Linked DNA regions of Homo sapiens. The protein of the gene in region 4 interacts with the protein of the main gene of each other region in a pairwise test. Each region holds a gene or a part of one and is shown on either strand. Other genes may lie near its edges.

What was found.
Region 1: the proteins of PER2 (region 4) and BHLHE41 interact in a two-hybrid assay, tested with the Homo sapiens proteins (one study listed by BioGRID).
Region 2: the proteins of PER2 (region 4) and LENG8 interact in binary tests that used the Homo sapiens proteins (3 or more experiments, as listed by UniProt).
Region 3: the proteins of PER2 (region 4) and RORC interact in a two-hybrid assay, tested with the Homo sapiens proteins (one study listed by BioGRID).

Annotation. Positions count from the first base shown.
Region 1 is NC_000012.12:26,122,037-26,129,329, forward strand, and holds the start of BHLHE41 (class E basic helix-loop-helix protein 41), read right to left. Parts: upstream 3,002-7,293; 5' UTR 2,744-3,001; coding exon 2,682-2,743; intron 2,547-2,681; coding exon 2,483-2,546; intron 2,144-2,482; coding exon 2,036-2,143; intron 1,706-2,035; coding exon 1,594-1,705; intron 1,133-1,593; coding exon 30-1,132; 3' UTR 1-29. UniProt on the Homo sapiens protein: Transcriptional repressor involved in the regulation of the circadian rhythm by negatively regulating the activity of the clock genes and clock-controlled genes.
Region 2 is NC_000019.10:54,452,181-54,459,202, forward strand, and holds part of LENG8 (leukocyte receptor cluster member 8), read left to right. Parts: coding exon 1-87; intron 88-470; coding exon 471-572; intron 573-1,365; coding exon 1,366-1,476; intron 1,477-2,249; coding exon 2,250-2,502; intron 2,503-2,770; coding exon 2,771-2,912; intron 2,913-3,183; coding exon 3,184-3,387; intron 3,388-3,786; coding exon 3,787-4,065; intron 4,066-4,144; coding exon 4,145-4,285; intron 4,286-4,455; coding exon 4,456-4,741; intron 4,742-5,566; coding exon 5,567-5,668; intron 5,669-5,753; coding exon 5,754-5,822; intron 5,823-5,922; coding exon 5,923-6,052; intron 6,053-6,133; coding exon 6,134-6,341; coding exon of another isoform or gene 6,342-6,726; exon of another isoform or gene 6,727-7,022.
Region 3 is NC_000001.11:151,828,794-151,835,831, forward strand, and holds the start of RORC (nuclear receptor ROR-gamma), read right to left. Parts: upstream 3,010-7,038; 5' UTR 2,972-3,009; coding exon 2,932-2,971; intron 2,340-2,931; exon of another isoform or gene 2,337-2,339; coding exon of another isoform or gene 2,135-2,336; intron 666-2,134; coding exon 636-665; intron 1-635. UniProt on the Homo sapiens protein: Nuclear receptor that binds DNA as a monomer to ROR response elements (RORE) containing a single core motif half-site 5'-AGGTCA-3' preceded by a short A-T-rich sequence.
Region 4 is NC_000002.12:238,285,611-238,292,609, reverse strand, and holds the start of PER2 (period circadian protein homolog 2), read left to right. Parts: upstream 1-3,999; 5' UTR 4,000-4,261; intron 4,262-4,712; exon of another isoform or gene 4,713-4,741; intron 4,742-6,999. UniProt on the Homo sapiens protein: Transcriptional repressor which forms a core component of the circadian clock.

The DNA.
Region 1 (7,293 bases), on a different chromosome or scaffold from region 4:
TGAACCTCCGTCCTTCGGGACGCAAGGATTCAGGGAGCTTCCTTTCCTGGCTGCGAGGGATCTTCCTGAGCAGAGCTCTCCGGGTTCCCCGGCTCGCGGGGCCCGGCGAAGGGCAGGTGGGTGCGGCCGTGCGGGTGCTGGGGGTGCGGCGCCCCAAGGGGCGCCACCTCGTGCGGCAGGAGGGTCGCGGCGGCGGCGCCCGCCTTCTCGGGAGGGGGCGACAACACCGAGGACAGGCAGGGGAACGCGGCGGCGGCGGCGGCAGCGGCGGCGGCGGCTGCCGCGGCTGCCGCCGGGGCGGGGATGCCGGGGTATAGCAGCGGGAACGGGGCGGCAGCCGCCGCCGGGTACAGATACTTCTCCAGGCCGCTCTTGTCCAGGAAGGGCTGCACGTAGGCGGCAGCTGCAGAAGGCGAGAGGAAGCAGAAGGGCAGGCAGAAGGGGGCCGCGGCGGCCGCGGGCTGCGGGAAGGGCGCGCCTCCGCCTCCGCCGAACGCCACCAGCGAGCTGAGCAGGGCGGCGTCGGGTCTCAGCAGCGCGGCCGCGGCGGCAGGGTCGGGCCCCAGAAGCGCGGCTGCCGCCGCCGCCGCGCCGCCCCCCGGGCCGCCGCCGCTGCCGCCGCCGCGGGAATCCAGCTTCATCCTCTTGGGCGCCGGCGAGTCCTCCCCGGGAGGCTCCTGCTTGATGGTGACGCGGCTCGCCCCCGCGCCTTTGCCTTTCTCGCGGTCCGGCCGGGCCTCGGCTTCGCCGCCGTAGCCGCTGTCGGTGTCCGTGTCGTTCTCGGCGGCGAGCTCGGCGCTGGGCTGAGTCCGCTGGATGACGGGCACGCAGTAGGCGAGGGGCTCCAGCTTCTGCCCCGCGCGCTCCAGGCAGGGGGCGGCCGCGGACCCGGCGGCCGAGGGAGCGCCGGTGCCTTTGCTCAGAGGGACCTGTTGAGTCAACAGCTGCGGGGTGGGCAAGAACTGGGTGGCCACGGCGTGCAAGTGGTTGATCAGCTGGACACACCGCGGCTCCCTGGGTGTCCAGCTCTCAAACCGGGAGAGGTATTGCAAGACTTCTTTGGCGCATGTTTGAAATCCCGAGTGGAACGCATCCAAGTCGGACTGAATGGGCGATTTCAGAGATCGCTCCCCTAGGATGAGGAAGGGATGGGGGTGGGGGACGGAGGAGTGGAGGCAAGAAGAAACATACCCACGTTAAAACATCTGCTTATCACGTGGGCCCTGCATCGACTAAAGTGATCTCGGTTTTTCCCCAGTATTCAAGTGATATAATCCACCAGTTGACGAGAGAAGCGGGGTGGCGGAGGTGCGGAGCGGGGAGAGGGCGCTCTCCTCCCAGCTGAAAACCAAAGTGGAGCGGGTGCAACCGCCACTTTAAATCCTGATTCCTCCGAGTTCTGCTGAAAGCCTCTAGGATGCTTCGGGAAATGGGCTCGTTCCAATGAAGGGAAAGTATAAGCAATTTAACAAATGAGAGGGAACCCATGAGCCCACGGAAAGAGATGGGGTGCGGGTGAGGGAGTCCTGACACTGCTCCCCTGTGGGCTGCCCCGCTTCATCAGGGTAGGCTGGCCTCCCTGAACTGACTTACCATTCTGTAAAGCAATTATCTTCTGATGCTGTTGCTCGGTTAAGGCGGTTAAAGCTTTTAAGTGTTTCAAAGTTAATTCCAAGACTACAGCTTTCTCCAGATGTCCCAGAGTCTGCAGTGGTGCAAAAAAGAAACGGGCACTTGGTTACTTAAAAACACACATTTGGCTTAATTGGCTGTCCATTCAGCACAGCAATTTAAGCAAACACTTTGAAAGAAGTACTGTTCTTTTACTTCTTGAGCTTTCCACAAGACAGGTTATAAATGATTTCTTGCCTTCAGCTGGGAGCACCTACTCCAGTTTGCGGGAAACTCTGTACGGTATAGCACAAGTTTTAAGTCAGGAACTTATATTTACATTTATTCTTATATTTTCTGGGAGTCGCACCAGACTATTAACACGCCCTTGGAGAGCAGCAAAGAATGAAAATGTGCATCTTACTGTCAATTTCAGATGTTCAGGCAGTAAATCTTTCAGCTGAGCAATGCATTCATTAATTCGGTCTCTTCTTTTCTTTTCTATTAATCTGTGCGGTAATTTGTAGGTATCCTTAATATATGAGAGTCATGGAAAAGAGAAAACAGTAAGCGAAACATTCACTTATTGGATATTACCCTCGTCTGCCCCCCCCGCCCCCCCACCATAAAACATACTATGTGATAAACTACACCCAAGAAACCTCTTTCCTCTGGACTGTTCTGCAATGCAATTTAAATTCAGGTATGATGTTTAATATCCCCCTGAGAGTACCCAGCAAGCCACTTAAAATTCACAGTTGGGGAAGCTCAGGGGCTGGAATATATTTGCGGGCAGAGCTTCACTGTGAAATCAATGGCTCTAATTAACTACCCATGCAGGTTATGAGGAATATCGGGAACTTACACTTACCTTGGTGTCGTCTCGTTTCATGCTCCTTTTGGGTTTACACATATACAAAGAGGAATAGTCCAGTCTGCAAAACAGAAATCAGCATCAGGCACCCATTCGGGGAGGGGCTCTGCCCTCGCCAGCTCCATACCACTTTCTGGAGAAGAAAAAAATCAAACCAAAGCCTAGACAGATATTCGCAAGGGTGCGTGCACCTTACCCTATAAAATCTCTATGTTCCAGTAACTGTCTCTCTTGCAAATGAGGAATTCCTTCGTCCATGTTCAACTGCTGTTCGTTTCCTCTGTTTCGATTTTTGGGGCTCTGTACAATAATCTGTGGGACGGTAGGCTTGGGAGACCTTGGGGGGATCTGTGCGTCTCCAGTCTCTCTCTCGCTCTCCCTCTTCAGTGCAGTGTTGAAAGTGTGAAGCAGTTGGTCCCCCCCCTCCACCGCGCTCGCACACACACACGCACACACACGCACACTCGCGCCGGCCCCACTGCGCTGGTAGTTTGCTCTCACTCCAGGCAGTGTTTGGCCACAGGGCACGCGCGTCGCCGGCCAGACCAGCACCCAGCTCACGTGCGGAACGTACCATCCGCGGTCCAGCCCGGAGGGGGGCGGGGGAGGAGGGGCCGGGCCGGGCGGGGGCGTCGGGAGAAGGCGGCGAGAGAAGGCGAACGGCAGGAGGGGGCGGGGACACCTGATCAGGGCCACCGGAAAGGAAAAACAACTTCGGCCAAGCTATTCATCTTCCCAAAGGCGATGCAGTCGGCAGGAGGAGGGGGGAGTGGGGGTGCAGGGGTGCGGGGCAGCCTGAGCTTCCTTGGCTCCAAAATGCGACTCCCTGGGTTCGTCCGTTGTTACGGTGCAGGAATGTGAACGTGGCTTTTTGCTTTTCCACCGATTGTGCTGTTGGTTTGAACCATAGAAAGGAAGTGAAAAGAGAATTCGCGGTGGGTAAACTTGAGTCCCAAAGGAAATTTTGGAGACTTGTTTGCTCACTGATCAGTGGCCTGGAGGGACTCCTTGGCGCTGGGTGGAGAGGTTGCCTCGAGAAGAAGCAACTTGCAATCCGCTCCTTGAAGGATTTAAGATACATGAAAACGTTGTCACTGGGTCCGAATGTCGCAATCCAAGTGTCTTTCGGTGACACGGCGTCCCTGGGCCAACTAAACTTCCCCGCAGCAGCCGGAATTGCGGTGCCACTAATCACAGCAGCAGATGACGACGTTTGGGGCCGCGTGTGCTCCTGGAGGAACGCGGCGGGGAGCGAGCCGGGGTTGAGTGGGGGCTGGGAAGGGAGAAGGGGGTGGCACGAGAGGGGGTGGCACGAGAGGGGCTACCACAGAAAAGCTATGCAGCATTTATCACCCGCCCGCTCAACTCTGCCGCGTTCTGAGCCTCCGGTGACGCTACGTGCTTTCCCCATCCCCCCGCCCCCCCGCGCGATAAGAGACGCCCGGAGTGTGCAGAGCCCACGTTTACTACCGCTGGCACCTCCAAAGCCTCCCTCCTTAATCCGGTCTCAAACGGGTACCAGCACAGGGCCAGCAACGTGATCCGACCTGCCGCTGCTGCCACATCACTGCTCGGGGAACCCGTGCGCGCGCGCGCTCGCCCTGCAGCCGCGGCGCTCGGCGCCGGGAATCACAGGCCAGCAAGAGCCGGGTTACCTTTCCCCAGAGCCACCCTGGGAGCATGACTCACTGCTAGTGAGAGTTACCGGGAGGTGCCCGGGGATGCGCACTGCCCACGCCGCCCTGCCAGCCCAGGGGAAGGCATGTCCTGAGGGACTCCCAGGGGTGGGATGGAGGCTATATATATATTTCTCTAGATATACATAAAGACATAGAGAAAAAAACCAAGGTTTTTCCTGCACAGAGAGGGATATTTACATTCTCCCCGGGGTGATCTCTGAAACGTTGATTATTGCCGGTGATAAGTGAACCGAGGGGAGAAGAACGCCAAAGGTACATGCACCAGGGCGCAGCAGGGACTGGGGCGCCCGCTACGTGTCCCCCGGCCCGCCCCGCCGGGCACGGGTTCCGGGGACGGATCTGGGTCGCGGGAAGCGGCGGCTGGGAGGAGGTCACGTGTCTGCGGGAGTCGCGTCTCCTCCCCGACTCCAGGAGCAGCCCGGGCCGCGGCGGCCGCTCGCGCTGCTGCAGTCTCCGGAGTCCTGGGCGGAGACGCGCACTGCGTCTGGCTTCGTGACTCGGGCGGCGGCGGCGGCCCAGGATCACCCCGGCGTGAGGAGACGCTCGCGGTCCGTTCAGTTCATCTGTTTAGAGGGCCTTTTAAGGTCTCTCGACTTCCTCAAATAGAGGAACGTATTTTGCACCAAACAGGCAATTTAATCACGATGGTTCTTAATTTAAAAAGTATTTTTAAAATGCTGACTTTATTTTAAATCTCGGTCCGACCTCTCTCCTATTTCCAAAAGGTTAGGTAATTAAGACCCTTCGATGGGGAGGGCACGTTGGAGCCCTAAAAGCGACCTATTCCTGCAGTACTGTATCATTTTTACCTCTTTTTAATTGACTAAAAATGGGAATGCCGTTAGGTGAATAATTTAAAAATTAAAACACCAGGTCCCCTTCTAGATTTCTGAATGTTTGGAGTAGAAAGGGGATGTAAATATTTGCTCCAGAGCTAAATTTCACTTGAAAAGGATGACTGGTTAGGGAAAATGAAATAAAGACAAGATCATTGCATTTTGGCCTCGTCGGGCTAAAAACACAAGGCAGACATCTGACCAGGGCAAACCTTAGAAGCTAAGTCTGGGGCAGAGATTAAATGCAAGTTGAAATAGGAGGAACACGATCAGGAGCCTTGAGGCTCAAAGGTGGGTTAAATAAGCTTGCAGCACCCCATAATTTAAAGGGACAAAAAGCTGCAAATGACACATGAAGCTTTTTTCTGTTATCTCTTTGAGGCTCCTCTCTCCCCCCATCCTTTCTGCCCCAAGCTTCCCCACTTCCGTACCCTTTTCCCGTGATACCTACTCAAACTGCAAATGGGGTCTTTTCCCAATTTTTATCTCCTTTGTTGTTCTTGATCCCCTTTTCCTCTTCTTTTCTGTCTTTCCTTTACATATTCACCTTTTAACTCATGTTTCCCTTTTTCATTTCTTCTTTATCTTCCTTTCCCTTATGTTCTCTGTCTACCTTTTCCCTGTTAAATGCCAGCTTTTGCCATTTCTCTGTAGTTCTGTCAATCTCCTGTTTGCTTTTTGCCCTTTTTTTTCTTTGATCTTTCACCCTGGTGACTCTTCTTGGTTACCCACTTCCCTTAAACTTGAATCCCATTCCTGTTCTTTCTCAAACTCTTGGCTTCTGGAATATTGGGCATAGTTTGATGCCTCTGAATATCCCTTTGCGCAAGAAGGGTGTAACAATAGCTAACAACTATATAGCCTTTAAGATTAGAGTACCAGACTGCATTCAAAGAGCTTTTTATGTATTAAGTCATTAATCATTTCCACAACCCTCTAAGGTAGATACTATTATTGTTTCCATTCTACAGATGAGAAAATGCTTACAAAGTGAGATTGCAAAATATTTCCAAGGTCCCAGAGCCAGGATTTAAGCCCAGACAGTGGGTTCGAGAGTCTGGACCCTGGACGACTCTTACACCTCAATGTGAATAGTGAGTGGTAAGGTATAAGTGTTAACTAGCTGCTTCAGGGATGTTTTTCTATTTACCAGTATAAGTGTGCACATTTGTGTGTGTGTGTGAATGAAATTGTGTGGGGAGTTTTGCAAGAGAGATGGAAAAGGGAGAGGTGTTAGCATTGGAGCTGATGACAGAGATAAGAAAAGCTATGGCAAGAAGAGAGGCAGTCTTTTGCCATGTCAGTGAGTCATTCAGTTGGCATCTAGCTTCAAATTTATTGATTTAAATCCAAATATCCTAATTAACTCTTATAATTTTGTACAGATGGACAGATGGAAGTACAGTTTAGAAAAGGCTGATGGTGACCAGCTGTTCACCAGCTCTGCTGAGCAAACTGAGCCAAGCTCTAATGTGAAGACTTCAGGTTAGTAATAGGAAAAGTTCACCTGTGGTGAGGTTAGAAAGGGAAAAAAAGTACGCTAACAAAGGAACAGAAACTAGAATGCCATCTTTGGATATGTTTTAAAATAGGTTGAGTCTTATCTTTTTAGGAAAGCTTAATGCTATCCTGCTGAAAGCCAAGAAGATACAAGATGAGCTCAAAGCCCCTTTGAGCTTATAATTAAAGAATTTTGTGATGCTTTGCTTTCAATTAAAGATATCCATCTTTCTCCTTTTAATAGGCGAGGGGTAGCTGCTTCCATTGCTTTTCTTTGGTTAAGTAAGGAAATCATTACCTATAGAGACACTAATGAAAGGAAATACTTAGGCCAATTCTCCCCCCTGCCTAAATATCCTAAGTCCTGCACTCATTATATTCACCCTGTGACTTTAGAAGGCCTTATCCTGTTTGCAAAGTCTTGGATTTCCAACAGAAACAGAACTTGCCTGAAAGGATTAAAGTTTCCATGGGGAATAGAGGTTTTCTGCCTCTTTAGGGTTCTGCAAGCCCTACTGCCCTTCTGGAGAATTAACTCCAGGGTGTTTTAGGAACCCAAGTGTGATCCAAACTAACTGTACATCTCTGATGGCCCCAAAATCTGCTTAGGGGCGTAGAGTCTCCTGCCTGTGATACTGTGAAAATGGCCCATCTGAAGGGCAGAAGCCATTCTTGATCACCTCTGTTTTACAGAGCGGACAAGAATCTGCAGACGTTTTACATCAAAGTTAAGCAGAGTCCAAAACAATCTAAAAAAGTTTTGGGTTGATGC
Region 2 (7,022 bases), on a different chromosome or scaffold from region 4:
CGTCAGGCCCTGGCCAGCATCAGCAAGTCAGGAGCTGCCGGCGGCTCTGCCAAGTCCAGCAGCAATGGGCCTGTGGCCAGTGCACAGGTGAGAAGGCCTCATGGGGCTGGGGTACCCTGAGCCAGAGGTTGTGGGAGGGACACAGTCTGGCGTCCTGTTGTATCATTCAGACGGGGTGCTCTGAGGGGAAACATGAAAAGACGTTCCAGGGTATCTAAATCTGAACGGGAAAAAGTTCTGTTTCCTTGAGGAAATTAGGGCGTGATGTGGTTCTGAAGAGGGAGGCCATGCCCATGCCCCTGGTCTCTAACGTGCGTGAGTCTCATGGTAGAGACAGTGGCTCACTTTGCAGATACATGGACCCAGTTTCATCCCTTGGCAATTGGCCACCAGTAAACAGGCTTGCCCTTTGGGGGCCGTGTGCCTGTGGATTTGGGCTGCTGACGGCACATGTGCCTCTGCTTCCACAGTACGTGTCCCAGGCAGAAGCCTCAGCTTTGCAGCAGCAGCAGTACTACCAGTGGTACCAGCAGTACAACTATGCCTACCCCTACAGCTACTACTATCCCATGGTGAGTGCCCAGCCAGTGGGGCGGGGCAGGGCGAGGTGGAGTCTGCTGGGTCGGGGCGAGGTGAAGTGGAGTCTGCCGGGATGGGGCTGGGTGGTGGATGGACTGGAGATCGCAGTGATAACTGCTCAGAAACCCTCTAACTTGCCCAGGAGGTAAATTCCTAGGTCCCCGCCATGAGCCACAAGGTCCTACATACCCGGTTCTGGTCCCTTCTCTCCTCATGCTCATTCTGCCATGGCCATCGAAGCAGAGACCTCCTTGATGCCCGCACCCGCCAGGCCCGCTCTCGCTTTGCCCTGGCTGCAGTGCTCCCTGTGTTGCCGCCTCTTGGAGGTCTCTGCTCAGATGCCGCCTTCAGAGAGCCTCTACCTGACACACTGATTGAAAGTAGCATTCCTGCCTCGCAGCCTGTCCCTCTCCCTTTCTTTGCCATCTTATTGTTTCATGATCCTTATTGCTGGATGTATTACATGTTGATGTCTCCAGCCGGACATGTAATTCCAGCACAAGCTTCATTACAGCATGGGTTTTCCTTTTGTTCTGTCGTAGTGCTTAGAAGAGTTGGCACTCAGTATCGTTGATTATATTCTTCCGAGAACTAGCTAAGTGAGATGTGGGATTGATAGAGGTTTTTCTTTTCCTAATATATGAGAGGATGTGGTGCATTAATATAGTGAAGAGAGAAAGGGGTGAGGGATTGGTAGAGGGTCATGGCTGGTGTAGTTCCTGAGCAGGCTGGGGAAGCGGAAAGGGTAGGCCTCCCACTAAACCCTCCCTCCCTGCGCCTTTGCAGAGCATGTACCAGAGCTATGGCTCCCCTTCCCAGTATGGGATGGCCGGCTCCTATGGCTCAGCCACACCCCAGCAGCCATCCGCACCCCAACACCAAGGGACTCTGAACCAGGTAACATCCTAGCCCAGCTCCCATACCCTGCTCAAGCAGAGGAAGTGTAGATTTTTGAATGAGCTGTCAATGAGGAATGGCTTGTACTCCTTAAGCTGCTTTTTTCCTTCCAAGCAACTCCTGATCTGAAAATGAGGAGGACAGAGCATAGTGTTTGAACCTGGGGTGGGTTTAAGGCTGAGCCAAGGCCAGGGCTGAGATGTTGAAAGACATCTCATCTTTTTCCCTAGCATGGTCACCCACAGGCGTGCACACACCGGCTGGGTTTTGCATTGAATGTGCAGCTTGGAGGAATGGCCGGGCTAGTGCACAGGAGGCAGGTAGACCTGGGTTTGAATCCCAGCTGTCCCACCCCTGGTGTAATTACGCATCTCGGTCAGCTCTCGAAAGCGGGAAGGATGGTAGCCTCATCCTTGGGCTCCATGAGTGTGTGTGCTCATGGGTGTCTTGTGCTCAGATGGTAGCGCTGGAGTGGGTGTGTTGTCGGTGGCTGTTACTCCAGCATTGAAACGCTGCCAGCTGCCGCTTCATAGCTTAGGGCCCTGGGAAGTCGCTTAGTCTCTGAGCTGGAGCCTTGTCAGCTGTGAAAAGGGCTGTTAACAAATGTTAACCTCACAGAGTTACTGAGGACTCGAATGAACTCACATTTGGGAAGGTCACGGGAGGGTTGAGTGCTGAGTGCTGTGACCACTGCGTCCTCACAGCGAGGGCTGAGTGCCACTCGCCAGCCCCAGAATCTGCCTCCCGTGCTCAGCGCCTGCTTCCTTCTGCAGCCCCCAGTCCCCGGCATGGATGAGAGCATGTCCTACCAGGCTCCCCCTCAGCAGCTGCCGTCGGCTCAGCCCCCTCAGCCCTCAAATCCCCCACATGGGGCTCACACGCTGAACAGTGGCCCTCAGCCTGGGACAGCTCCAGCCACACAGCACAGCCAGGCGGGGCCCGCCACGGGCCAGGCCTATGGGCCACACACCTACACCGAACCTGCCAAGCCCAAGAAGGGCCAACAGCTGTGGAACCGCATGAAACGTAAGTTGGCAGAGCTACGTGGAGGTCCGAGCGGTTGGGCCCTCATAAGAGCTCCTGGGTGTGAGGCCCGTGGTGTGTGCTGCTCCTTGTTTCTGGGTGTTGTGATCGCCAGGCTGGGGGTGGGGCTGCTCTGGACCAGGCACATGTGTGCTGGAGCCCTCCTCTAGAACCTGAGCGCTCCTCCCTGCATTTCCACTTCCTCCCGTCCCCTGGGGACCCCTGGATGTGCCGGGGAAGGGCCTAACCATAGCTTTCGCTGCCCTCACAGCCGCCCCTGGGACTGGAGGTCTCAAGTTCAACATCCAGAAGCGACCCTTTGCTGTTACCACCCAGAGCTTTGGCTCCAACGCAGAGGGCCAGCACAGTGGTTTTGGCCCCCAGCCCAACCCTGAGAAAGTTCAGAACCACAGGTGACGTCTGCCCCCTTGCCCCGTCGCAGCCCCACACTCTGCACTCAGCGTCTATGGTCCAGTCCCACTGGCCAGCTGCCCACCCTGAGCCTCAGTGTGCGCCTCTGAAAAGGGCAGAAGGACCCTCTCTTGGGGGTTGCTGTGAGCACTGAAGGAGACAGAAGGAAAACTTGGGGACTGCGTCCCGCTGTGTCAGCTCAGAGTGGCGGTGGGGATGGTCTTTTGAGTTTGGGATCGTCTCCAGCTGAGCCCCTCATCTGTCCTCCCGCAGCGGGTCCTCTGCCCGGGGGAACCTGTCTGGGAAGCCGGATGACTGGCCCCAGGACATGAAAGAGTATGTGGAGCGCTGCTTCACCGCCTGTGAGTCGGAGGAGGACAAGGACCGCACGGAAAAGCTGCTCAAGGAGGTGCTGCAGGCGCGGCTGCAGGACGGCTCGGCCTATACCATTGACTGGAGCCGGGAGCCCTTGCCGGGGTTAGTCTGGGTGGGGGACATAGGTGGGAGGGTGGTGCTGTGAGAGGCATGGGCTGGGTATGGAGGTAGGAGAGTTGCGGGTCCCAGGTACCAGGAGCTCCAAAGAGAAATGAACTGGAAAGTTGGATCCTGGGGGGATGAAGTCCTGGTTGGAGGGAGGCCGGTGGGGTGGGGTGGGGACCATGGGTGCTGGAGAGGCGTGCATTGCTCAGTGGTTAAGCGCACCCTCTGGAGACGGAAAACCTGGGTTCGCGTCTCATTTCTGCACTGTAGTAGCTGAGCCGCCTGGGGTAAGTGCCTTTCCTTTCGGAGGCGGGTCGGTACCTTGAGGGAGGTGGTGGCGGCTGTCCTGCCAGTGTCTGGCGGGGTTGGTGACGCCCTGCCCTGCTGTATTCTCAGGCTGACCCGGGAGCCTGTGGCTGAGAGCCCTAAGAAGAAGCGGTGGGAGGCCGCTAGCAGCCTTCACCCTCCTAGAGGGGCAGGCTCGGCGACAAGGGGCGGGGGTGCCCCGTCCCAGCGAGGGACGCCCGGGGCTGGGGGTGCCGGTCGAGCCCGGGGCAACAGCTTCACCAAGTTTGGCAACCGCAACGTCTTCATGAAGGACAACAGCTCTTCTTCCAGCACAGACTCCCGCTCCCGCTCCTCCTCCAGGTCCCCGACGCGCCACTTCCGCAGAAGGTACTGAGGCTCCCGGCTGGGGCTGTGTGTGAGGGAGGGGGAGGCGTTTCAGGCCTGACCCTCCTGCTTCTTCCTGCAGTGACTCCCACTCAGACTCCGACAGCTCCTACTCAGGGAATGAGTGTCACCCTGTGGGCCGCAGGAACCCGCCCCCTAAGGGCCGGGGCGGTCGAGGGGCCCATATGGATCGGGGCCGAGGCAGGGCGCAGCGTGGGAAGAGGTGAGACTGTGTGAGGGCTCGACACACGGGCCAGGGTGGAGGAGGGTACTGGGGACCCATGGGAGAAGGAGGAGGAGGGCCGGACAGGTGGACAGCCAGCTGCCAAAGGGGCGAGGCTGAAGGGGGGCTGGAGACGCCTGTCGCGCTCACTGCCCCTCATCCCTTCCTAGGCACGATCTGGCGCCCACCAAGCGCAGTCGAAAGAAGATGGCGGCGCTGGAGTGTGAGGACCCGGAGCGAGAGCTGAAGAAGCAGAAGCGGGCAGCCCGCTTCCAGCACGGACACTCCCGCCGCCTGCGCCTCGAGCCCCTGGTGCTGCAGATGAGCAGCCTGGAGAGCAGTGGGGCTGACCCTGACTGGCAGGAGCTGCAGATCGTGGGCACCTGCCCTGACATCACCAAGCACTACCTGCGCCTCACCTGTGCCCCCGACCCGTCCACCGTGCGCCCTGTGGCAGTAAGTGCCCAGCAGGGCAGTTCTGCTCTGTGAGGCCGTGCTGGCTCAGGACTTGGGGAGCCAACCCAGGGAGGGTGGCAGAGGCCACACGGGGGCTCTGGTATGGCAGGGGAAGCTCGGCCAGAGACGCCTCGGCTGGTCGGCATTCTGAGAGGAGCGCAAAGGCGCTCTGCTGCCCTGGAGCCCCGCGTGGCGGGTGTGCAGCTTGGCCGGCGAATCGCTTGACCTCTGGGCCGTGGTTCCTGGCTTAGGTGACACGGAGCATAAAGCCTTCTCCCAGGCCCGTGGGCTGTGGGGCGTGGGGGGCTGTGTTTCCAGTGTTTGGCGTAGTCACTGTTCTGCTGCAGAACCTGTGAACAGCCATGTGCTTATAGGGAAATGGGTGTGGAGGTGGCCACTCTTAACCCATGTCTTGTGGGTTTGTTTTCTCTTTTTTTGGGAGAGAGTCTGGCTCTGTCGCCCAAGCTGGAGTGCAATGGCGTGATCTTGGCTCACCGCAGCCTCCGCTCCCCGGCTTCAAGCGATTCTCCTGCCTCAGCCTCCCTAGTGGCTGGGATTACAGGCGTCTGCCACTACGCCTGGCTGATTTTTGTATTTTTAGTAGAGACGGGGTTTCACCATGTTGGCCAGGTTGGTCTCAAACTCCTGACCTCAGATGATCCACACACCTCGGCCTCCCAAAGTGCTGGGATTACAGGCGTGAGCCACTGCGCCTGGCCTTTTTTTTCTTTTTTTAATGTTGCAACTCTCCCACCAAATAAGTGGAAGCCGTTGGCCACGCTACCTGAGTTGTACTCCGAGTGTGAATTCAGTTCCCTTTTTCAGGTTTTGAAAAAGTCGCTGTGCATGGTCAAGTGCCACTGGAAAGAGAAGCAGGACTACGCGTTTGCCTGCGAGCAGATGAAGTCGATCCGGCAGGATCTGACGGTGAGACTCGCGCTGGGAGGGGCCTGGCCTCAGCCAGTCCTGCCTCCCGCTCCTTGTGACTCTTGTTCTCGCCCCGCTGCCCCAGGTGCAGGGCATCCGCACCGAGTTCACGGTGGAGGTGTACGAGACCCATGCCCGGATCGCCTTGGAGAAGGTGAGCTGGCCTCTGCGGGCCTCCCCAGCCCCTTTCCTGCTGCCGTTCTGCCCTCAGCACCCTCACTCTGCTCTCCTCCCTCGGTGCCTCTGCCTTCCAGGGTGACCATGAAGAGTTTAACCAGTGCCAGACGCAGCTCAAGTCGCTGTACGCCGAGAACTTGCCTGGCAATGTGGGCGAGTTTACTGCCTACCGAATCCTCTACTACATCTTCACCAAGAACTCGGGAGGTGAGGCCCAGTCCCCAGGACAGAGGCCATGGTACCCAGGGTTGAGCCCTGCTGACTTCACCCTCTTTGTCTTGGTGCTAGACATCACCACGGAGCTGGCATACCTCACACGAGAACTGAAGGCAGATCCTTGCGTGGCCCACGCCTTGGCATTAAGGACAGCCTGGGCCCTGGGCAACTACCACCGCTTTTTCCGGCTCTACTGCCATGCACCCTGCATGTCTGGCTACCTCGTGGACAAGTTTGCAGATCGGGAGCGCAAGGTCGCCCTCAAGGCCATGATCAAAACGTATGTGGTGCCAAGCTCCCTTCTGCCTTTGCTCTTCCCATCCTTCCGCCTCGCACCGCCCCTCAGACCAGCTCCTGGCCGCAGGCCTCCCCCAGCCCCCAACCCTTGTCCTGGTCCTTGCTTCCCCATCATCTTTCTCCATTCAGCCCTCCCCTCTCCAGTTCCTCTTGCTCTCCTTGTTGGTCACCTCTGTGTTCCGGGTCACTCCTCTCCCTCTCCCCACTGTTCCCAGCTCACTGCCTCTGGGGCCTCTTCTCCACCCCATCTGTGTGTCTCTTCCTCCTGTTCTCTCCTGCCTGGACCCCCTAGTTCACTCCTTGCCCTGGGCTTCCTCAGAACCCTGAGGTCTCTGCTTTCTCAGCTTGTCGCTGTGCTCCCACCATAGAGACCATCTAGACAGCCTCTGGTCTACCAGGACAAGGCCCAGTCCCACTCAGCTCCTTTGAGAGCACCAGAAACGCTTAGGGAGACACCTGTGTTGAGGCCACACTGGGCGCGGTGCCAGAGGCCCCTGGTCAGGCCATGCCCCTGCAGTGTCCTTCGTTCACTAGACATTGCGCCTGGCTTGCTGTGGGTGGGGATGAGTTGCTTGACTCATGTTTAGACGCATGGTTCTGTCTGGTGATTGAGGTGCCCAGGCGACGCTGGGCAATGTCAAGAGAGGTTTTCGCTTGTCACAGC
Region 3 (7,038 bases), on a different chromosome or scaffold from region 4:
CATGGTGAAACCCCGTCTCTACTAAAAATACAAAAATTAGCCAGGCGTGGTGGTGGGTGCCTGTAGTCCCAGCTACTCGAGAGGCTGAGGCAGGAGAATCGCTTGAACCTGGGAGGTGGAGGTTGCAGTGAGCCGAGATTGTGCCATCGTACTCCCGCCCAGGCGACAGTGTGAGACTCTGTCTCAAAAAAAAAAAAAAAAAGCCTGGTGCAGGCTCCCTGTCTCCCTTGGCAGCAGCGCTGAGTTCCTGAGTTCCTGAGGCCACCCCGCCTCCGCACACCCCCCTACCTCTATCTCCTTCCTTCCCCGGCCTGGCAGTCGGCCCCACCCCCTCCCATCTCCCTGCCTCTGTCCAGCATTTCTCCTCGCCTTTTTTCACAAGGCGGTTCCCTTTTCCTTTGTTCTCTCCTGGTTTCTTTACAGTGTTTCCTTTCATGCTTCAGGCTTCTTCCTCATCTCCTCCCACTGCCCTGATCTGTGGTTTCCTCGCACCTCCCCTTGCTTTCCTGTTGCCTGCCATCTCTTCCTGACTCCTCCACCTCTGTCCAACCTCAGTCCCCCCACAGATCACTTGCTGAATTATTCTCCATCTCATTATGCCCCAGCCATTTTCTTGCCCCGGACCCCCTACTCACAGGTGTGGGTCTTCTTTGCAGCCAGCAGCTCTGTAAAGACAAGAGAGGGGGTTGACGTCAAAGGTTGAAGATCATGAGGGGCTGAGACACTTTCCCCACTCCTAGGATCCCACTGCCGCACTCCTTCCCTCAGAGCCTGGCGTCTGAAGGGCAGGCAGGCCACCCCCTGCAGTGCCCCTCTCTCCTCCTCTGCCCTTGGGCCACACTGGCCCTCTTCCAGGTACCCAGAAGTGTCAGGCTCCTCACTGCCTCTGGGACTCCCCCAAGCTGCTCCTTTGCCTAGAATGCCTGTCCCTCCTGTACCCCTTAATCTAGCCAACTTCTCTTTCTCCCTCAGGTCTCTGATTATGTTTCTTCCTTGGAGAAGCCACACACACCCCCTTCCCCTGCCCTTGTGCTGACACATTTAGCTCCTTGCATTTTATTTCCTGGCACTCACCATGTCACCAACTGTCACCTAACTGCTGTAATTGTGTCATTGTCTATGAAATGGGTCTTTCCTGCCAAATTGTAAAGCCCTGTGAAGGCAGGGACTGTGTTGGTCTTATTTACTTTGTAATTTCATTGGAGGTGCACAAGAAATATCCTACAGCCAGAGTTAAATCTCTGTGGGACTGAAATCTCTTGGTTGCTTATCTATGCCTGAAAACACCAGGGCTTCAGAGATGTGGGGGTTGGGAGTAGGGGGAGAGGATGTTTGGAGGAAGAGGAGGGGAGAGTTGCAAATACAGACCCCTCTCTGGCTTCCACGGGCCAGGCTTCCCTGGCCTACCAGCCTGAAGAGGAAGGCCTCCCTTCTCTGCTGCTGCTGCGTGGCCGGGTCTGGGTGGAGATTGGGCAGTAGGGAGCATGAGTGGGTCGATGGGGGTCACATGGATACTCGGACCTCCAGGGGGAGCAGCCGTTGAGGGGAGGGCCTTAGCTGGAGCATGGTTGGTGGGTGGGGGGGTGTCACCCATTCATGCAGTTAACATCTATGAAACACCTAGCCAGGGAGCCCCTGGAAAGAGGATTCCCCTGCCAGACCTTGGCCCATTTCCTACATCCACATAGCAGCTCATCACAGAACACATGGCCAGTCTTTTGTCTCAGAAAGCCCTTCAACCATGCCCTATACCCCCTATAGCTTCCCTAACCTCTGACTCTATTCTGTTATTTTTTTCCTTCTGCTGTTCAGTCTTGACACCTGACATACACACACACACACACACACACACACACACACACACACACAGTGCCCTTCTGCCCGGGAGATGCTCCCCACTGGCAGGCCGTGGTCACTAGGCTGTGTGGAGGCGAGTGGCCTGATGGCCTGGGCTCTGCTGGGGTGAGGGAGGAGAAAAGACTGCCCCGAGGTGGCAAGGCCCCACCCAGCCCCGCCCACCTCCCCTTGCTCCTGCCTGGCCCCACCCAGCTTCCTCCCTGACGTGGCACCGGCTCCTGGCCTCTAGCCTTGCACCTCAGAGCAGTCCTGTGGTGGGGGTGCTCCCCTTGCTCACCCAGGCAGCCAGTTCTTCCTCCACCAGGTGGCCCTGGAGCTTGGTGGCTCTGGCCCTCAAACTTTCCTCCTCCATGCTCACAGCTGACCAAGCCTGTGGCCCTGCGATCCTGCTCTGAGGGGGTTCCTGACTTGGACCATGGGTGGGGCCAAGGACGGCCTGACATTCTGTCCTTCCCTGCTGATGGCCCAGTGCCCCACATTCTCTGCAGAGATGAAATCCCACATCCCTGGGTGAGTGGCGAGGAAAGGACCAGGCTACGTGGTCATGGGCAGCTGACAGGGTGTGGTTCCCCCTGCCACACTCCCCAAGTCTGTCACTCCTTAAAGGACAGGTTTCTCCACTGGTGAATGAACAGAAGGTGGAGCAGCCAGCCTCCCGGCCACTGCTGTCTGGGGTCCTGGCCAGATCAAGGAAGCAGTGTCCCTGTGCCTCCTGGGGGGTAAGCCCACACCTGGGAGGGCCTGTCCACATTCTGACCCCTCGCTGGGTCTAGATCTGGCTCCCCTGACTTGGCTCTTCCCTCCCCATCTACCCTCCAACCTGTTTCTTCCTTCTCCCGCTTCTCCCTTTCTTTCCTGTTTCTCTCCTTTTGCGATTTCTTCTCCTCTGTCATCTCCCCAGCCCCTCCTCCTGTTTCTCCTCCAGTTTCACTCCCTGCCAACCCAGGGCTTTCTCCTCTGCACTCTTGTCCCTCCCTCCCCTCCTCACTTCTTGCCCAGTCTCTTGCCATTTCTGCCCTCCTCTGAACCTCCAGCAGTCTCTTCCACCTGCAGGCAGGGCCATGGGCCTCTTACCCCGTGAGGCTCGGTGCTGTCTCTGTGGGGCCCTGTCCATGGGGCAGCTCCCTTGGTGCCGTCCTGGCTGCCCTGGCTGCCCAGGAGGGCAGGGAGCAGGGCCCAGGGGAGGGAGGAGGGCGGAGGGTGGAAGGCGGGAGCACCTGGCCCTCCAGCAGGCAGGGAAAAGGAGTGGCTGGCAGAGTGTCCTGGCACCAGGAGGGGACATGAGGAGAGACCAGTGGACCAGTGCATGGAGCCTTGAGGAGAAACAGGACAGGAGAAAGGAAGGGAACTAGCATTTATTAATCACTTACTGTGTGCTGGGCCCTTTGCAGGACACTTTATGTAAATCCATGCTTTTACTTTGTGTAAATATTCACAGCACCCACCACAGGGAAACATTATTATTCCAGATTGATCAGTGAGTGGAGGGATTCTCAGAGATATTAATGATTTTGCCCAAGGACTCACACAAGAACAATAAATGGGTGAGCTATGATTTGGACCCAAGTCTTTGTGACTTTAGAATCCTGTGATTTCTACCTAAGACAGGTGACAGGCATAGGGGAGATGGAGAGGGCAGGTTTGGGGGACTGTGTCTCTTCTCTAGGATGCAGTCAGACTCCTCCCAGTGACTGTTCAGTTCCCTGAGGCCTCTGCCTGCTCGGCCCCTGCCCCTAACCCTTGCTGCTCTTGCCAGGACTCCCTGACCCCCTGATGCTTCTACGTGCTCCTCATCTGTTGGGGCAAGGGGCAGGCCTGGAGGAGTGCCTGGAGGCAGAGAAGCCATGGTGGGGAAGAGGAGAGGAGAGATGCTGCACTGGACTCATTGGGAGAAGGAGAGGCTCCCAGACCTAGTGGCCCACACTGAGGCCTGCAGTGAAGGCTCTGAAGGGGGCCAAGAGGACGAGGCTTCTGGGGATCCTGGTGCTGCTTTTCTCCTGCATGGCCTGGGCCCAGAGTTTGATTAGCTGGGCCTGACTCTCCTGGTTACCCAACAAGCAACTGGCCAGGGGCCAGGCTGCAGCAAGAGGCTCCCTGGCACCTCCTCCTGCTCTCGTTCCCAGCTGGTAAACAGCAGAGCAGGAGTCAGCCATGCCACAGCCTCGTGACTCGCCCACTCCCCCCCACCTGGTGCACGTGGCACCTGGCATGGAGAGGGCAAGCAGCTGTCCCTTCCCTCTTCTGCCGTCTCGTCTCGCCATCCTCCACTCCTGCCCAACCCTGGAGCTTCACACTCTGCTACCATCAGCACCTCTGTTCTTAGGTAGCTCCCAGAGTCTCCCCATGGCTGCAGATTGAGAGATAAAGGTAGAAGTGGAGAAGGACTTTTCAACTCCTAGGGTCATTGACAGTGGATGAGTAGTGAGAAAGAGGAGGGGAAGTTTTGGGGACCTTCTGCACTGAGTCTAAGGGTATGTGCCTATGCCTCTGAGGCTCTGATTATCCCCCGTGTTCTTTTGGTAAATGTGGGCCCACGCATCCATGTATGCATCTCTGCACAGAACAGGATGTTGGTCTGTTTGGGGGCTCTGCACCTTGGGCAGGTTTGGAGTGAGAGGTAAAGTGCTTTGCAGCTCCCTTCCCCCCCGCCCCCCCAGCACCCTCCAGCTGACAGGAGGAGCCAGCAACATGCCGGGCGTGGGAGTGCAGGGGAGATGCCGTTCTGCTCCCCTCCTCCCCAGAACTCCTCAGTTATCCCCCATCTCTCTGTCTCTCTTTGCTGGCTCCTGCCTGTCTGTGGCTCTTCTCCAGCTGTCCCCTCTCTATCTTTTCTCCTTTTTAGGCCTCTCTTCCTCTTGACTCTGGGTCTCCCAGGGGCCCTTCGTGACTACCTCTTCTACAACCCACCAATTGCAGGCACAGAGTGGAGGTCACGTAGAATGCTTGCGGATGGACACAGAGCATCCCCAGACACTGCAGGCACAGCTGACTCCCCAGTTGTGCCACTTTGTGCTACTATGTAGGGTGGGGAGGAAGTGACTGGAGATTTAGAAGACAGTATCCTGACCTCTAGGCCTAGGAGTGTCACATGCTTCCTAGGCATTCTCTACCTCTCCCCTGCCCTAAGCATGGATAGTTTGAGTTTTTTTTCTCCCCAGGGCAAGAAGATCCCTTGGTTATCCTTATGGGAAGTTCCCCCTCTTGTCTAAACTTTCTCCCTCTTGCTGCAATCACAGCCCCTTATCTGGAAGAATCGTCCTTTCAAAGCAGGGCGGTGGTTATTTCCTCTTCAAATACAATCTTATATAAGGAAGGGGCTGATAGGGATCAGAGAATCATTTCATCCCCACGTGCCCAGTCCCCTTATTGGGGAAATCTCCATGCTGGGGGCAAACACTCTGGAAGGGATGGGAGGTGGTGGTGGTGGCTTGGAACTGGGGAGCAGTCCCCAGCATCTCTTTCCTTCCTTCCCCAACCCTAAACCACAGAAACCACTTAAAGCTCAGCACAAATCTGCCCTTTCAGGGAGGGCCTGGGGGTCAAGGTGGAAAATATGTGGAGCCTGGGTAGTCTGCGGTGGCACACACTTCCCCAGCCCCATCCTTGGAGGGCCCTCTCCTTGGGATGCCTGATCCAGTGATTAGGGACCACTTTTCTTTGGGTTCTAGGGGGTTCCATGCCTGGGGACGCCTCAACCCACTGGAGTGACTCAGGGATGGGTTGTGCCTCAACCGTTGAAAAAGGACAGCCCAGGCTCTGTAACCTTCGGTAGCCTCCAGATCTCACAGTCCCCACCCCTCCCCCTTCTTGTCACAAAGGCCACTGTGGGTGGAGGAACAGTGGGAGTTTGACCCTAGCTCCTGGCCTTGAACTTTCCACAGTGACCCTGCTTGTACCTCTCCTCTACCAATTAACATTTATAGTCACACAGGCTTGGAGGTGGCAAGAAGGGTTTAAATGCTGGGGCAGAATCACTTATAAGAATGTGGTCTGCCATTTACTAGCTGTAGGCCCTGAGGGAAATCTCAGCCCTCAGCTACCACATCAGTAAAAATGGGGCAATAATACCTGTCCTAACTAGTGGATTTTTTTGTTTTGTTTTGTTTTTGAGACAAGGTCTCACTTTGTCACCCAGGCTGGAGTGCAGTGGCGTGATCTCAGCTTACTGCAGGCTTGACCTCCTGGGTTCAAGAGGTCCTCCTGCTTCAGCCCCCCAAGTAGTTGGGACTACAAGTGCATGCCACCACATGCAACTAATTTTTGCATTTTTTGTAGAGATGGGGTTTCACCATGTTGCCCAGGCTGGTCTCAAACTCCTGAGCTCAGGTAATCTGCCCGCCTCAGCCTCCCACATTTATCCACTTATCAAAGTGTTAGGATTACAGTCATGAGCCACCACACCTGGCCTCTGACTAGTGTTTATAGAAGTGCTTTGGGGCCAGAGCAATCTGCACACTGGAGGGTTTCTTAGGACCTCCTCACTCCCATGTTTCTGTACTTTAGCTACCCAGGATGTTCCTCCAGCAATGCTAGGGCCCCCATCACAGAGCCTCAGGGCTGTGAATGCTGAGTGAACTGCTCCTGGGAGGAGTGGCCTTGGATTTCCTCACAGCTTCCCCTAAGCAGTTGGGGTGGCAGTGGGGGTGTCTGGGTGGAGTCAGGTCAGAACCTTTCCCTCCAGCCAGGGCTGTTCCCCAGGCAAGCTTACTTAACCTATCTATCTGATCCATTTCTTTCTTTGTAAAGTGGGAATAATAATACCTACTCTCCTGAGTGGTTGTGACGCGGTGGCTTACGCCTGTAATCCCAGCACTTTGGGAGGCCGAGGTGGGTGGATCATGAGACCGAGACCGAGATCATGAGACCAAATCAGGAGATCGAGACCATCCTGGCTAACACGGTGAAACCCCGTCTCTACTAAAAATACAAAAAACCAGCGGGTGTGGTGGCACGCGCCTGTAGTGGCAGCTACTCGGGAGGCTGAGGCAGGAGAATCACTTGAACCTGGGAGGTGGAGATTGCAGTGAGACGAGATCGCACCACCGCACTCCAGCCTGGGCAACAGAGTGAGACTCCGTCCCCCCACCCCAAAAAAGAGGAATACTAATATCTACTCTACTGAGTGGTTGTGATGATCAACTGAGATAACACAGATAAAGTTCAGGACCTGGTCCAAAGTAC
Region 4 (6,999 bases):
CATCTAAGGCTCATCATACCTGGTGGTGAAATACTGAACACTTCCTCCCCCAGGGTGGAACGGGCCAAGGATGCCCACTCTCACCATTCTATTCCACATCAAATGCGGGTCCTAGCTTGTGCCACCAGCTCTGTGATCTCTAGGGCATCCTTTGCAAAGGAGCCATTGGGACATGGATGCTTACATTCCAGGCTCCAAGCAAGCTCCTTTCCCCAGGCTCTTCTCCAGGGTGAGGCGAAGAAAGATGGGGACTGCACACCCATCGTGGATGGCTCAATCTTGTGACTTCCTTGGGGAAGACATATGAGAACACGTGTGTGCACATCACACCCACATGTCTCCCCTAAACAAAGAACAGCCTCCCTGGATCTATATTTAGTTTAAAAATCAAAAAGCCTTCTCAGTAGGTAGCTAGCATGATAAAGATGCCTTCTTCTTTTTTTGAAAAGATAGGATCTCAGTCTTGCTCTGTTGCCCAGCCTGGAGTGCAGTGATGCAATCACAGTTCACTGCAACCTCGAACTCCTGGCCTCAAGGGATCCTCCTGCCTCAGCCTCCCAAGTGGCTGGGACCACAGGAACATGCCATCATGCCTGGCTTTCTTGTTTTTTGTAGAGACAGTGTCTCACTATGTTGCCCAGGCTGTTCTCAAACTCCTGGGTTCAAGAAATCCTCCCACCTTGGCCTCCCAAAGAGCTGGAAGATACTTTCTTTATACCGGTCCGCAAACCACCTCATGTCCAGGGACAGGCACCTGCCCTCGGGTCACTAGAGGCAAGTTGTCCTTGTCTCACCCTGAGACCCTGGACACAGGTGCCCGCGCCCTTGAGGTCACCTCTGTGAGCTGGCTGAGGGTCTCCCTGCCAGGAGCTGCCACCATGCCAAGCTGGGGTCAGCCGTAGGTCAGCGCTGGGTTCAAGGGAGGCTGGAGAGTAAGGGTTGGGCATTATCATCTCCAATGTCCCTAGGCCCAAGAAAGGGGCTCCAGCACTAGGGGGCCAGAAAGCTTGACAGTGTCCCCTCCATCTCTTTAGAGAGACTTTGCTGGCCACCACCTCCTCCATTTGCAGAGGGAATTCTCTTCCTAGCCGCCTGTCCTTTGGCCCTCCAGCTAGCCAACCCGCAAACCATGCCACCTACAATGAGAGGAAGCAGTGATCAGCACAGTTGCCTGGTACATAGTAGTTGCTCAGTAAACAATTGGCTGGGTGCATGAGTGAATGAGAGGGCCAGTGAGTGGACTGGCAAGGGCATGGAGGCCTGGGTGCAGAGAGGCCCTACAGGCAGGCCCAGACATAGATGGGTGGGCCAACTTGGGCCAGGCTTACTGGTGGAAACAGGCTGGTGGGAGTGGGTGGAGCAGGGGCCAAGCAGCCTTTAGCTGGGAGGCCAGCTCCTCCCACTGGCAGCATTCCCAAGGTAGGTGGGGACCCTGGCTTACCACTCCACCTCCACCCCCAACTAAAGGACTAGCTGTCTCCTAGCCAGCCTGCCTCCCACAGTGCCAACAGCAATTCCCCTATCCAAGAGCTCTGAGCTCCGTGCTGGAGGTGACAGCTGGCCAGTGTGGGCTGGCTAGGAAAGGGTTCATCCCCCTTCCTTCTCCAATCTGACTGCCCCAATTTGCGCTCTCTCTCTGTCACCATCTTGGTTCAGCAAGAATGGCATCCATGCACTTGGCCTGATTGTAGGAGCTCATCCCCTGAGCGCTGTCCTCTGTTGGAGCTGGGATGGAGGCTTCTGTCCATGGCTGTCCTATTCCCTCAGGACCTACACACCACAACTTAGACAAAATTGCCTCTGAATCTGCCTCCTCCCCCCTTCTACATCACCAACTCCTTACAAGCAGGGATGCAGTGAGATGTATTTTTGCATGCCCCTCAACACTCAGGTGTCAACAAGTATTTGTGGAGTGTACACAAATTTCCAATAATAGGAAAGAAGAAACTGGCTGTGAATCACTGAAAATAGATGAGATTCTGAAGAGTCCTAGAGCCCAAAGCACTTGATAATTTCTAAAAGAATTGATTTCAATATATTTCTACCAGATTTATTGGTGGAAATAAAAAAGGCTACATTTAGGGAGGAAATGTGACATCAGGTAGCAGGCTGAATATGGAGCAAGACCCAGCAAAAGCATGAAGAAGAATCTCGGTAAGGTGTGGATGAGCTGTCTGTTTACTCTTGTTTCCAGAACAATGGAGCTCCCCATTGACGTCAATGGGAGGGAAGAAACAAAAGAGCCTTTGGGTGTGTGCAGGGCGCAGCAGCCGGGCCTGGGTTTGCTTGGCATTTGTGTGTGTATGTGTTAGGGAGAGGGGGCGGGGAGTGTGTCGAGGTGTCAATGTCAGAGGAACAGGAGGAGGGGCCACCTGACTGAGTGTGTGAACAGCATGCAGGCCTCCCGGGGCTTCTGTGGGAAGGGCTGCCCCGATGAACTTGGTATTTGCCCTGGTTTGCATCTGAGAAGTTGCACACACACCTTGTCAAGTAGAAGAGAAGGAGTTATCACACTCAGGAATTCCTGATGTGGGTTCATAACTTTTCCTTCTGTCCCATCCCTGGTCCCCAGGTGAGTCCAGGTAAAGAAGAACAAGAAGAGTAAAGAGAGATGCTGCGGGCTCCAGCTTCTTGGACAGTCTCGCCTTCCCCATGAGAGCCTACACATTCAGAGCCTGCTGCGTGGGAGCCTGAAAGCTCCTTCCTGTCCTGTAAGTCTCAGGCTTCTACCCAGACCCGGGGAAATTGTACTCTTTCTCCTGACACTTTAAATGGAAGTTTAGAGGCTCCACATGCCCCACACAATGCTTACCGAAACAAGGTGATGCAGGGTCCCGCGCTGTCTCCCAGGACAACCTCCTACCCCTGGCTCCTGCGTCTCTACGGCTTGCACCGTTGTAAGGCGTCCCTTTCTCAGGGCCCATCTTACCCGCCTTGGAAGTGCTGCCTTTCTCACGGAGCCTGTGGGGATAGCTCTGGTTAATTTATAGCCCACATCGCCCAATTTAGCATTTGATTAAGTTTCCTTTTTATGAGATAGTCCTTTCTCCCTAGTGATGCGCTTGGGGGCAGGGACAACATCATTTCTTTCTTTTGTACCTCCCCAGAGTAACAATGACTCTATTTCCTGAACCAAAAATTGCAACACGTGGTCTCAAAAATAAGAAAGGTCACTTGGTAGCTGCCGGGACAAGTGTCGACCACAGGCACCTCAGAGGCCCGGGTGGGCGTGCCCCCGGAGCTGCTGCAGGGCGGTGCTGCCACCTTCTCCTGGGCTGCTCCGGGGCCCCGCGATGAATGAGTGAGTGAATGAGTAAATGAATGAATGTGAATGCGTGAATGAAGCATGCCGCGCGGACTTTCCCGCGGCCCTGGCCGCTGGGGGCGCGCCTCTGGCCGGTGGCCGGAGGTGGAGGTCTCCCTCGTCCGGCTTCGGCGCGCCGGGTCTGCCAGGCCGGCCGGAGGTGCGCAGGAGCCCCGCGCCCAGCTCCCCCGCCCGCAATGGTACGCGCCACTCCGCGCTCCCCGAGCTGGCGGGCTTGAGGGCGTAGTGAATGGAAGGCGCCGACGCCGGAAGTGGATGAGACCACTAGGGAGGACGACGGGTAGCACGAACGCGCCGCGTCTCCATTGAGGAACCGACGAGGTGAACATGGAGTTCCATGTGCGTCTTATGTAAAAAGAGCGACGGGCGCGGCCACCAATGGGCGCGCGGCGTTCGTAGGCCCCGCCCCTCATGTATGCAGATGAGACGGAGTCGCGGCCAATGGCGGAGGCCGGGGGCGGGCGCGGCGCGCGCGGTCACGTTTTCCACTATGTGACAGCGGCGACTCGGCCGCGGCGGAGGCGGCGGCGCTGAGGGGATACGTGCAGCTGTGGGCGGCGGCGGCGGGCGCGGGGCCGGGCGGACAGAGCCGCGAGTCGGCGGAGGGACCGGCGGACGGGCTGACGCGGGCGCGGCCGGCGGTAAGTGGCGCGGCGCGGCCCCGCTGCGGCTTACGTAACCGCCGCCGGCGCGCGGGCCTCGGGCAGGTCGGGGTCCCAGCGCCGGCTCGGGCAGCGGAGGCGCCGCCGGAAGTTCCTTGGGCTGCTGGACTCCTCGGCTTGAAACGGCGCCGGCGTGGGGGCGTGTGCCCTTGGCCCTGTCCCAGGTGGAGAGTGGTCGAGCCGCGCGCAGGGTGCGCTCGTTTGAACTGCGGTGACACCGAGGGTTGGGGACTCGAACCCCCGCTTCGCAGCTCAGGAGCCTGAGGTCCGAAAGGTGAGGCAGCGTGTGTAGGGCACCGAGCTACCGAGTGACTGCGCGCGGGCTGCGGTTCCGTGGGCGATTCTCTTTTGGGAACCCTCCCTCCCCTCGCATGGGGAAGGCCAAGGAAACCAAGGGTCAGCGCAGCCGGCCCTGGGATCTGGAGGACCCTCGGGGAGCTGACTGCCTCTTCTGAGGCCACAGGGCTAAGTCCTGGGCTGGGGAAGGGCCATGGAGGGGCGCTGATCTAGGAGCTTTTCCTGGACACCCACGGGTCTCCTGGAATGGGTGATCAGAGGGACAAGGAAGTCCCGGTGCCAAGCCAGGCCTGGGAACCTGAGGGCGGGGAGACCCTCTAATGTTCGCCCCTTTGCCTCCCCTGGACCACCCTGTATTAATTCCCTTTCCCCGGACTGGATAGAAGGGAATGGGGGTGTCCACTCTTTGGTGCAGCAGTCGCGCCTACCTTCTGGGATGTACTTTGGCTGCCAAGTCCCAGACATAGACCAGGGGGTGGGAGGTGGCCTGCTTCCCCCTTCAGGAAGGCCAGGGTAAGGGATGACGAGTTGGTTGCCAGGGTTTCTGTAACCTACACAGAAGGAACCCGTTTGGAAAGCTGATTCATACAGAACAACAGAGCCAGAAGGCACCCTGAAAATCACCCAGAGTAACCCCTCAGCCTGACAGATGAGCAAACTGAGGCCCAGGCCCAGGCTGTCTGCAGGATCTTCCCATCGTCCTGGGGCAGGATGAGCTTCAGAGGTTCAGTGATGGCCTCCACTTGCGTGCTGAATCCTGGGTGGGCTGGAATTTGGGAGGAAGGGCCTTAAGTCCGGGAAATGTGTTAAGAACCCCACACGGTGGCTAAAGCCCCACATGGACGCCTCTCACCTGTATATGGCACAGCAGGACTGCTAGACTTCTTGGCCCACCCTCTACCCCCACCTGGGGCTTCTGGTCCCAGGCTGGGTGTGCCTGAGAAGAAAACAGGACTCTACCTGAAGGCTTTATTTGGAAATTGAGTTTTAAAATACAAGGTGAATTGATTTTTGTGTGCTATATGACTATAATGAAGAAAGGGACTCCGTTTTTTTTGAGTGGAAGCTGTGTGGTGTGCCAGCGCGGGGATGGCACCGTGGGTGTTTGCAGTTATCTGTCACTGTCGCCTTGGTATGATTCATTGGTACAGAACTAACGCAGCCCTGGCTTTCTGTGGAGACTGGAGTGCCAGGTGGGAAGGGGGAGCCCTGTGTCAGCCAGCTGGCTGCTGCTGGCTCCCAGTCTGGGCCTCAGTTTCCTTGTTTGTTTGGAGGGGCTCAGATTGGGCAGTCTCAGAGGTCTACTTTAATTCCCAGGTTTTTGGTTTTCTGTTACCCTACAGATGATTTTTCCCAGGTTTCTCGCAGGAGACAGAGGCTTCTGATATGCTCTTGCCTTTGGGCCAAGTAATGTTCTCCTGTGAGCCACGTCTGCAGTGCTTACAAGGAAAAAGGAAAGATTCCTCTCCTGTGCACTACTTCTCGTACCCACTGAACTTTCTCAAAAATACTGGTAGTCACACTGCTGTTTTTAAGCGATGATGTAACTTCACCAGGACTCGGCAAACCACGGCTCTGTCAGGTCATTGAACAGCTGGCAGGGCCACTTGGCGTTTAGTCAGAAGAAAGACAGGCTCTGGGTGTGCTTTTACCTTTTGAAAACTACTCTGTTTGGCAGAGGGAGCCAGAAACACACAATTCCATAAGCTTGGCAGAGACTGTCGCCACACTTCTGGAAAGCTGGCCCACCTTGGGAACCAAGGGAGAATTAGTCTAGAGGGGGCCTCTGATGGACCCCTCCCCCAGCCCACGCACTCCCCCCTAGGGACCAGGCCCTCCTTTCAACTCATTATGCTCATCGTGTACACATTTGTAACAAGTTTGTTACCATATCTCCAAGTCTAGAGCAAATTAGAAGCAGTAAATGAATAGCAGTGACTGGTGACAGGAGTCAAGGCCACTTGGTTTTCAGAGACTGGTAGTTCCCAAGACAGAGTGAGCTGCCGTGCTGAACCCTCACCGGCCTCGAAGGGTTCCTCGTGCTCTTCCTGGGGTGACATAGAGGAATCAGAATCCACTCTTTAAGAAACCAGGTACAGGAGGAGCAGATGCCTGAGCTTCCTGCAATTCGGAGTAGCTCAGTCCCTGACCACCGGGGAGCTAGGAGGCTGACACTTTTGCCTTTATTTGCTTTAAAGTCTTGTAGTTCTAAAAATGTAGGGATTTAAAAGTCTGAATTGAGATCATTGAAGGTGTCCTAGTGAGGCCAAGACAATGCCTCCCCGGTGCACCTCCTTCCCTCCATATTTGGATGGCTGCGGTCACATTTTCCTCAGTTACCCAACCGTTGCCATGGAGAGTGCGGCTGTTTATTTAGCAGGACAAACATTTTCTCAGGATTACAGCAGGCTGGCCTCAGGGAGTTGGCTCCTACCAGGAAGTAGAAAACATGTTAGAATATTTGGGGTTGTAAAATCCTGCAGGGCTTGCAGAGACAGTACATGCTGTATGAGCCCTATTATGTAAAGTTCGAAAACAGGCAGAATTCACTAGGCTGCAAGAAGCCAAGCTAGTGAGTCCCCGCGGGGTAGATGGTGGCTGGGAGGGCCACCAGGAGCCTCTGGGGGGCTGGCACTGTCCTGCCTCTGGTGACATGTGACATGGCATGTTGTTTGTGGATATACATCAAGCTGTGACCTCATGAGGTGGGACTCC